Linked DNA regions of Homo sapiens. The protein of the gene in region 1 interacts with the protein of each later gene in a pairwise test. Each region holds a gene or a part of one and is shown on either strand. Other genes may lie near its edges.

What was found. Proteins that work in one complex are often made in the same cells at the same time.
Region 2: the proteins of HSF2BP (region 1) and GPBP1 interact in binary tests that used the Homo sapiens proteins (3 or more experiments, as listed by UniProt).

The regions. Positions count from the first base shown.
Region 1 is NC_000021.9:43,606,973-43,612,257, reverse strand, and holds part of HSF2BP (heat shock factor 2-binding protein), read left to right. Parts: intron 1-2,268; exon of another isoform or gene 2,269-2,371; intron 2,372-5,285. UniProt on the Homo sapiens protein: Meiotic recombination factor component of recombination bridges involved in meiotic double-strand break repair.
Region 2 is NC_000005.10:57,225,234-57,230,518, reverse strand, and holds part of GPBP1 (vasculin), read right to left. Parts: intron 1-5,285. UniProt on the Homo sapiens protein: Functions as a GC-rich promoter-specific transactivating transcription factor.

The DNA of each region.
Region 1 (5,285 bases):
TTTCCTGTTTCTTCATATGCCAAGTAATTTTGGATTTATCCTGGACATTTACGTGATCACTGGTCTTGTTTAAATCCTTGGGAAATGCTGGTGTTTATATTTTCACAGGCAGTCAACCCCTTTGGGTCAGATTCCAGCCAGCCTTTTCTCTGTTTGGTTTCAGTGTGTCGTCCTGTTTTCAGAGTCTTTACAGTGCTATTGGAACTGCCCCTCGTGAGTGCCGCCCAGTGGCCAGTCTGAGACCTGGGTGGTCTGGATCTTAGGTTCAGAGTCTTTCAGATACTGTTTATGATCAGATCCACACAGGCACAACTTGGGATGAGGCCAGGAATTTATAAACAACTTTTTGGGGTCACTTTTCTGAGCTGTTAACTCTCTGGGTACACTTTAGTTACCTGGGACTGCCTTTTTCAGTCCCCCACCTGGAATGCTGGGGCTTCATATACCCTGCTGTGTCCAAGTGCCTGCAACTCTGCCCTCATCCCGCCCTGCGGCAGGAGTTGAGAAGCTCTTAGAGCTTTCAGGTGTAAGGAAAAAATTCCTTTCCCCCAGAGTTTGAGTTACCTGGGGGATGTCCCCACTGCTACCGTGCTTGGTTGCTGGCAGGAGACCCCTTTCCCACTCCTTGAGCCTCACTAGAGACCTTCTCCTGGTGCTCTCTGTGTGGCTCAGGGCTACTTTTGGGTTTTGGAGCTCCCTCGAGTCCAGGCCAGGGACACTAAAGGAAAAAGTGGTAAACTCTCTGCTGGTTTAGTGGTTCTTAAAATTTTGATCTTCTTCCCCTATCTGCCTGCTACTGTTTACTTTTCAGAGTCCTCAAATAGCTGCTTCATGTATTCTCTTTGGAATTTATAGCTGCATTCAGTGGAAGCGAGACTGGAGGGTGTGTTCAGGCCATCTTATCCAGAACCAAGCTTTCTAGTCCATTTTAATATTTTGTGCTAACAAATATCTATACATACATAATACATATAATACAGTGTAACATATATGCAAAAAAAATTTTTTTTTTGAGACAGAGTCTTGCTTTGTAACCCAGGCTGGAGCACAGTGGTATGAACATGGCTCACTGCAGCCTCGACCTCTTAGGCTTAAGTTATCCTCCCAGCTCAGCCTTCTGAGCAGCTGGGACCGTCAGTGCATGCCACCATGCCTGGCTAATTGTTAAATTTTAAAAATTTTTTTGTAGAGACGGGGTCTCTCCATGTTGCCCAGGCTGGCATAGATGGTTTTGTTTGGGGGTATAATTTTACAAATTGCTTGTGGATCTAGTTCATTCCTTTTAAGTACCTTGCATCAAAGGAGATGTAATATTTGGATTATCCTTCCCTGACTGATGGGCATTTAAGTTACTTTCGGGTTTTACTTGACAAATATAATGCCGTAGTGAGCATCCTTGATAAACTCTTTGCTAACCTGTCTGAGAGTTCTCCAGGAGTTTTCCCAGAGGAAATATTTGAGAAGTAGTACATGGACATTTTCAATTTGATAAGATACTGCCAAATTGGTCACCATAGTGTACATTTCTACCTGCACCATGTCAGTGTTCGTGTTTCCCACGTCCTTGTCAGCACTTTGCTATTTATTATATTCCTCTAAAGAGAAAAAATATATGTGTATATGGAGAGAGAGGTGCCGGGGGAAGAGGGGGAGAGACAGGGTCTTGCTGTGTTACCCAGGCTGGAGTGCAGTGGTGCAATCACGGCTCACTGCAGCCGCGACCTCTGGGGCTCAAGTGATCCTCCCATCCCAGCCTCCCAAGTAACTGGGGTCCCAGCTACTCTGCACGCCACCATGCGCAGCTAATTTTTTTTTTTTTTTTGGTATTTTTTGTAGAGACAGGGTCTCACCTTGTTGCCCAGGCTTGTCTCAAACTCCTAAGCTCAAGTGATCCACCTGCCTCAGCCTCCCAGAATGTTGGGATTACAGCGTGAGCCACTGGACCTGGCCTTAAAGAGTATTTTTATCATCCACCTATCATCTGTCTGTCTTTGTCCTTCTCTCCCTTCCTTCAGATTTAGATTGCCAGTGAGGTTGAGGCTCTTCACATGTTTGTACCATTCCAGTTTTTCCTTTGAGTCACCTGTCTGTGTCTTGTGCCCACTTTCCTGTTGGGCTGCATTTTTCTTAGTGATCTGCTGTAGGTCTTTGTGTGTTCTGGATACTAATCCATTGCCTCTTTTGCTTCTGTGGTCTGTACAAGGTCCATATTTATGGGCCAGCTAAAGTCCCCCTTCAACTTCCAAGGCAAAGCTGTGTGTGAGGGCTGGGTCACTTCTAGCCTCTCCGGTTCCAGTCCCTGGAGCTCTGTGCCTTTGGGTCCTGGTGAGCTCTTGTTGATTGCAGTGGGAGATGGGGAGAATTGCCTTCAGAGCCATTCACTGACTTTCTTGGCAGTCTTCCATTTGGCCACTGAGCAAAGCCGCGTGTTTACCCTCTATCCTGACTCGGGATCTCAGCATGCACCAGCCTGAGAGGGGCCTTCCCCCTGGGATCTTTGGCTGCCTTCCAACATGCTCATGGCTTGTTCCGTCTCACCACATCTCCAAGGCACTCTTCTCCCCTCTTTTCACCTCCCCCACTTCACTAACGCCCACCCTTGAGTCCTCTGGAGCCCCAAGACCTTTCTCATACTATAAATCAGCCTCTTTTCTTCCTGGCCTCCCCCTGCCTTGTGTATAGCTTGCCTCTCTCTGGGGAACTACACTTTCACTGCCACTTTCATGATCGAAGGTCACTCATTTTCAGCAGTTAGTACCTTAGACCCAGAGATAGGGGTTATTTTTTTCCTAGTTGCCCATTTTTTAAAAAAATTTAAATTTAAATTTTAGATTCAGGGGGTACATGTGCAGGTTTGTTACAAGAGTATATTGCGTGATGCCAAGGTTTGGGCTTCTGTTGAATCTGTCACTCAGATAGTAGATATAGTACCCAATAGGAGATTTTTCAGTCCTTGTTCCTCTCCCTCCCTCTCTCCTTTTGGAGTCTCCAGTGTCTCTTGTTCCCATCTTTATGTCCGCGTATACCAAGGGTTTAGCTCCCACTTATAAATGAGAACATGCAATATTTGGTTTTCTACTTCTGGATTAATTCACTTAAGATAAGTGGAGGCAGCCTCCAGCTGCATCCATGTTGCTGCAAAGGACATGGTGGTGGTCTTTCTTTCTGGCTGCGAAGTATTCCATGGCTTGTATGTACCACATTTTCTTTATCCAATCCACTGTTGATGGACACCTGGGTTGATTCTATGTCTTTGCTATTTTTGTTTTGTTTAGTTTTGTTTTTGAGACAGGGTCTGGCTGTTCCATTCACACTGGCATGCAGTGGTGCTATCTTATCTCACTGCAGTCTGAAAATCCTGGGCTCAAGCAATCCTTCTGCCTCGGCCTCCCAAGTACTTGGGATTACAGGCATGTGACATCATGCCTGGCTAATTAAAAAAAATTTTTTTTTTTTTGGTAGCGATAGGGGTCTCACTTTCTTGCCCAGGATAGTCTTGAACTCCTGAACTCAAGTGATCCTTTCACCTCAGCCTCCCAAAGTGCTGGGATTTCAGGCATGAGCCACCACTTATCTTTGCTATTGTGAGCAGTGCTGTGATAAACTTATAAGGGCAGGTGTCTTTTTGGTAGAACAATTTTATTTTCCTTTGGCTATTTACCAAGTAATGGGATTGCTGGGTTGAATGCTAGGTCTGTTTTTAGTTCTTTGAGAAATCTCCAGACTGCTTTCCATAGGTGCTGAATTAATTTACATTCCCACCAACAGTGTATACGAGTTCCCTTTTTTCAGTGGTTTTGCCAACATGATGTTTTTTGACTTTCTAGTAATAGCCATTTTGACTGGTGTGAGATAGTACCTCATTGTGGTTTTGATTTGCGTTTCCCTGATGACTAGTGATGTTGGGCATTTTTTCATGTTTCGTTGGCTGCTTATATGTTTTCTTTTAAGAAGTGTCTGTTCTTGCCCTTTGCCTGCTTTTTAATGAGGTTGTGTGTTTTTTCTTGTTGATTTGTTTAACTTAACTTCCCTATAGATTCTGGATATTAGACTTTTGTTGGATCCATAGTTTGCGAATATTTTCTCCCATTCTGTAGGTTGTCTGTTTACTCTGTTGATAGTTTTTTTTGCTGTGGAGAAGCTCTTTATTTTAATTATGTCCCAATTGTCAATTTTCGGTTTTGTTGCAATTGCTTTTGAGGACTCAGTCAAATTCTTTGCCTAGGCCGATATCCAGAAGACTATTTCCTAGATTTTGTTCTAGGACTTTTATAGTTTGAGGTCTTACATTTAAGTCCTTAATCCATCTTGAGTTAATTTTTATCTGTGGTTAGAGGTAGTGGTCCAGTTTCATTCGTTTACATATGGTTAGCTATTTTTCCCAGCACCATTTATTGAACAGGGAGTCCTTTCCTCATTGCTTATTTTTGTCAATGTTGTCAAAGGTCAATTGGCTGTATGTGTGCAGCTTTAATTTCTGGGTTCTGTATTCTGTTCCATTGGTCTATGTGTTTATTTTTGTACCAGTGTTATGCTGTTTTAGTTAGTGTAGCCTGGTAGTATAGTTTGAAGGTGGGCAGTGTGATGGCTCTAGCTTTGTTCTTTTTTCTTAGCGTTGCTTTGGCTATTTGGGCTCTTTTTTGGTTCTATAAGAATTTTAGAAGAGTTTGTTCTAATTCTATGAAAAATGATGTTGGTAATTTAATAGCAATAGCATTGAATCTGTAGATTGCTTTGGGCAGTTTGGACATTTTCATGATATTGATTCTTCCAGTCCATGAACATGAATGTTTTTCCAGTTGTGTCATCTATGATACTTCTTTCAGCAGTGTTCTGTAGTTCTTCTTGAAGAGATCTTTCACTCCCTTGGTTAGATGTATTCCTAGGTTTTTGTGTGTGTGTGTGGCTGTTGTAAATAGGATTGTGTTGTTGATTTGGCTCTCAGCTTGAACCTTTTTTTTTTTTTTTGAGACAGGGTCTCACCCTTTTACCCAGGCTGGAGTGCAGTGGCATAATCACGGCTCACTGCAGCCTCGACCTGCTGATCTCAAGCGATTCTCCTGCCTGAGCATCCTGAGTAGCTGGGACTACAGGTGTGTGCCACCACACCTGACTAATTTCTGTAGTTTTTTGTAGAGACAGGGTTTCGCCATGTTGCACAAGCTGGTCTTGAACTCCTGAGCTCAAGTGATCCGCCTTCCTTGGCTCTTCCCAAAGTGCTGGGACTACAGGCTTGAGCCACCACACCTGGCCTCCAGTTCTGTGTTGAATAGGTGCGGTAAGAG
Region 2 (5,285 bases), on another chromosome or scaffold:
GATATAAATTTTCACTACAGCTCAGTTTCCTTCTACATCAGAGAAAAATTGTCAAATGAATCTTCAGTTCTAAGTCCCTTAAATTTATTTCCATATTCCTCTTCCCCAAACCAAGTGTTTTTAAAAAGGTATCAAAATAAAAGAATGTACAATAAGTATTCCAAAAAATTAGAAATACAGAAAAGTTCTAACAATGTATAAAAGTCACTAGCCCCAAATATTAATCTACTAATCTGATAAAACCACAATCAAAACTTCCAACAGTTTTTTTAAAGAATTTAATTTTAGGCCGGGCGCGGTGGCTTACACCTGTAATCCCAGCACTTTCGGAGGCCGAGGCAAGCGGATCACCTGAGATTGGGAGTTCGAGACCAGCTGACCAACATGGAGAAACCCCGTCTCTACTAAAAACACAAAAAAATGAGCCAGGTGTGGTGGCACATGCCTGTAATCCCAGCTACTCGGGAGGCTGAGGCAAGAGAATCGCTTGAACCTGGGAGGCGGGGAGGTTGCAGTGAACCGAGATCACGCCATTGCATGTGAGAAGGGACGGGACGGGACGGGACGGGACGGGACGCGATGCGATGCAACGGGATGGGAAGGGAAGGGAAAATTTTAACAAGTCGTCTCAGTAATCTAAAAAGAAAATGCATGAAAATGATCAATAAATGTTTGAAAAAGGCCAGGCATGGTGGCTCACGCCTGTAATCCCAGCACTTTGGGGTACTGAGGTGGGCAGATCACCTGAGGTCAGGAGTTCGAGACCAGACCAGTCCGGCCAACACAGTGAAACCCCATCTCTACAAAAAATACAAAATTAGCCATGTGTGGTGGCACACGCCTGTAGTTCCAGCTACTCGGGAGGCTGAGACAGGAGAATTGCCTGAACCTGGGAGGCAGGTTGCAGTTGCAGTGAGCCGAGATGACACAACTGTACTCCAGAGCCTGGACGAGACAGAGTAAGACTCCATCAAAAAAAGAAAAGGAAAGGGAAAGGGAAAGAGAAAGAAAAAGGAAAAAGGAAAAGGAAAGGAAAGGAAAATAGAGCTCTATAAATCAATACAAATAAGGACAACCTAATGGGGAAAACATGAGCAAAAAGCCAGTTCTCAAAAATTAAAGAGCCACAAATCACATGAAAACATAGCCAGGTTCTCTTGTAATCAAAATGCAAGATTAGAACAAAGCTGGCACCTCTTGCCCATTGGCCAATATATAATGACAGTAAGGGTTGAGAAGACAGACAACTCCTTTTTTTTTTTTTTTTTTTTTTTTTTTTTTTTTTTTTGAGATGGAGTCTTGTTCTGTCGCCCAGGCTGGGGTGCAGTGGCACGATCTTGGCTCACTGCAACCTTCACCTCCTGGGTTCCAGCGATTCTCCTGCCTCAGCCTCGTGAGCAGCTGGGATTACAGGCACCCACCACCACAACCGGTTAATTTTTATATTTTTAGTAGAAACGGGGTTTGATCATTATTGGCCAGGCTGGTCTTCAACTCCTGACTTCAAGTGATCCACCTGCCTTGGCCTCCCAAAGTGCTGGGATTATAGGAGTGAGCCACTGCACTCAGCCCAGACAATTATTCATTACTGGGTTAGAAAACATACACATACATATATGCTTGCTTACTTCTCTCAGTAGGGAGGGAAATGCACATGTATATCTATACTTATATTTGTCATCTTTTAAGTCTTTATGGTTAGTTTTTTTTTTTCAGTCTTGCATGTATTTCAATAGATTTATCCTAGCACCTTATAGCATTTTAAAAATTTTTTTGTATTATGCCCCAGAACTGAGCAGATGCCATTTATACTGCAAATATTTTTCTACAGCTTATTTTTTTTAATTTCCTTAAAAAAATTTCCCCCGCTGAAATCTGAGTAAAATAAAGAATGGAGGGGATCTTTTTCCCCCTTAGAGACAGATCTATATGCCCAAGCCAGACTTGAACTCCTGGCCTCAAGTGATGCTCCTGCCTCAGCCTCCTGAGCAGCCGGGACTACAGGCATGCACCACTGCACCCAGCTTTGAGATACAGATATAGATGCAGACTTTTTTTTTTTTTGAGACAGAGTCTCGCTCTGTCACCCAGGCTGGAGTGCAATGGTGCAATCTCAGCTCACTGCAACCTCCGTCTCCCAGGTTCAAATGATTCTCCTGCCTCAGCCTCCCAAGTAGCTGGGACTACAGGTGGCCACCACCACACCTGGCTAATTTTTGTACTTTCAGTAGAGATGGGGTTTCACCATATTGGCCAGGCTGGTCTCGAACTCCTGACCTTGTGATCTGCCCGCCTTGGGCTCTCAAAGTGCTGAGATTACACGTGTAAGCCACCACGCCCAGCTAGCTTTGATATTCTAAAAAGACTATATAGGTGGTTTTAATGAAGTATTTAAACATATAAAGAAGTAATTAAACAGGGTACTTGTTACTATTTTAAATATTTTTTAAAGCCTTAAGTCTTTGTTGCACTTACAATTCTATCTTGTATTAGTCTTTTATCTAGCAACTTTATTTCTAGTAACCTTAATTCATACTTTGTAGCATGTCTGTTGGGATTTTTTTATACGGACAGTTACTGTTCATAAATAATACCAGTTTTCTATCTTGCCCTTTAGTCCTGTTACCTGTTATTTCTTACTCATATTTTACTATGCTGGCTATATGTCAGAGTCTTTCAAGAGTCTGGGATGTTACCATCTGTGCAAGCTAACAAGCTAGCCTGGATACTGTTTCATGGATGCTGGCAAAAGACATGAGACAAAGACTTTATTACTCATGGTACAGCAAGCAGCATAAGCGTGATGTTGGCACTGGTTCTGTACAGCCCCCTAAGACCTTTGGGGATTGACAGGGAGGGGCCCAGGTGGATGCTGCCCTTGCACTGAGTTTGGCAAATCAACCACATATATAAAGAGCTTGGTCTTTGTCCCTCAATGTTGCTTACTGCAAACAACCAAGAAACGGCCCATGCAAAGTGTAGTCAAGATTTTGCATTCTTGGCATACAAGCAAGAACGTGTAGGGGACTGGGTGCAGTGTCTCATGGCCATAATCCCGGCAATTTGGGAGGCTGAGGCAGGTGGATCACTTGAGGTCAGGAGCTTGAGACTAGCCTGGTCAATACAGTGAAACTCCATCTCTACAAAAATTAGGCCAGGTGTGGTGGCTCATGCCTGTAATCCCAGTACTCTGGGAGGGTGAGGTGGGCAGATCACCTGAGGTCAGGAGTTTGAGACGAGCCTGGCCAAAATGGTGAAACGGCTCACTAAATACACTAAATTCACTAAAAGTACAAAAATTAGCTGGGTATGGTGGTGGGTGCCTGTAATCCCAGCTATTCAGGAGGCTGAGGTAGGAGAACTGCTTGAACCTGGGAGGTGGAGGTTGCGGTCAGCCAAGATTGCACCACTGCACTCCAGCCTGAGCAACAGAGCGAGACTCCACCTCCAAAAGTTAAAAAATAATTTCAAAAGAATACAGGCCGGGCACGGTGGCTCACGCCTGTAATCCTAGCACTTTGGGAGGCCAAGGCAGGAGGATCACGAGGTCAGGAGATCGAGATCATCCTGGCTAACATGGTGAAACCCCGTCTCTACTAAAAATACAAAAAATTAGTCAGGCGCGGTGGCGGGCACCTGCAGTCCCAGCTACTTGGGAGACTGAGGCAGGAGAATGGCATGAACTCAGGAGGCGGAGCTTGCAGTGAGCAGAGATCGCACCACTGCACTCTAGCCTGGGCAATAGAGCGAAATTCTGTCTCAAAAAAAAAAAAAAAAAAAAAAAAAAAAGAATACAAAAATTAGCCAGGCTTGGTGGCGCACACCTGTAATCCCAGTGACTTGAAGTATGAGAACTGCCTGAACCCAGCAGGCGGAGGCTGCAGTGAGCTGAGATCGCGCCACTGCACTCCAGCCTGAGTGACAGAGCAAGACTCAATCTCAAAAAAAAAAAAAAAAAAAAAAAAGCAAAAATGCTCAGAGCCCAGGATGAATTGCCTCTCTCAATGATCTACCCATCAGCCCTATACATTCTTGGCTGAATTTGAATTTTCCCATTATTATTCCACTGTTAGTAACTCATATTAATCTTCCTGACAGAGACTAGAACAAAATTCATTTAACTGGTCTTATACAGCATTTAATTAAGTCTATTATCAACATCTCAAGTGAGGTCAGGACCCAGCCAACTGAATAAACCCTGGAAGGAGGAACGCTGGTGGAGGTTGGGAACCACCAATAAGTAATTTTGCCAGGATATGGTCTAAGGCCATGATTATCCATTACAGTTCATTAACAGGAATTTAAACCGACCTGACTGTTGGTGTCTTTCATTAACAATTACAAGGGCAACAAATGGGCCAAAAGTTACCCCTCATTGTCAATAGAGAGATGTCCTGTATCTCATTCTCTCACATAAAAACCAACCACCCCAAGGGACACAGGTCACTCCAAGATCTGTTGTTAAACTTGATTTGGATTACTGTTAATAGCTTAGTTCAGAAACATGAACACTGTCTCAAAGTAACTGGAGCCTCAGTTGCTACACATGTCGTTAACTTTCAGGTATCTGGATAAGCATATGAATTGTTATTAATCATAACGAAACAAGGTTGTATGGATCTGAGTGTTCAAATGCAGATTTAGGAGCTGCATTGATGGCATCAGGAGTAGCAGGATAGCTGACTGCCCATGTCCACATCAATTTTTCCAAGTTCAAAGCATGTGGACAGAGGTGACAAATCTAGCAGTGTGTCAGTGTCATCTCCTCCAGCTGCTGTTTGACTCAGGCAGTGATGCTGGTTCAACGGTACAGAGAGGGCATTAATTGTTCACCTTTCTGCACCTCCTGGGGTAATGTGTTTCTCAAGTGTTGGAGTTGTCTGCTCTCCCTCCACAGCCATGAAATTGGTTAGTCTTGTGTCTAGCAATCTTAATTCTTACTTTGTAGAATCTGTCGGAGTTTTTTTTAATATGGACAGTTAATTGTTCACAAATAATACCAGTTTGTTTTTTTTTTTTTTTTTTTTGAGAAGGAATCTTGCTGACTCCCAGGGTGCAGTGCAGTGGCACGATCTTGGCTCACTGCAAGCTCCGCCTCCCGGGTTCATGCCATTCTCCTGCCTCAGCCTCCCGAGTAGCTGGGACTACAGGCGCCCGCCACCACGCCTGGCTAATATTTTGTATTTTTAGTAGAGACGGGGTTTCACCATGTTAGCCAGGTTTTAGTAGAGACGGGGTTTCACCATGTTAGCCAGGATGGTCAAGATCTCCTGACCTCATGATCC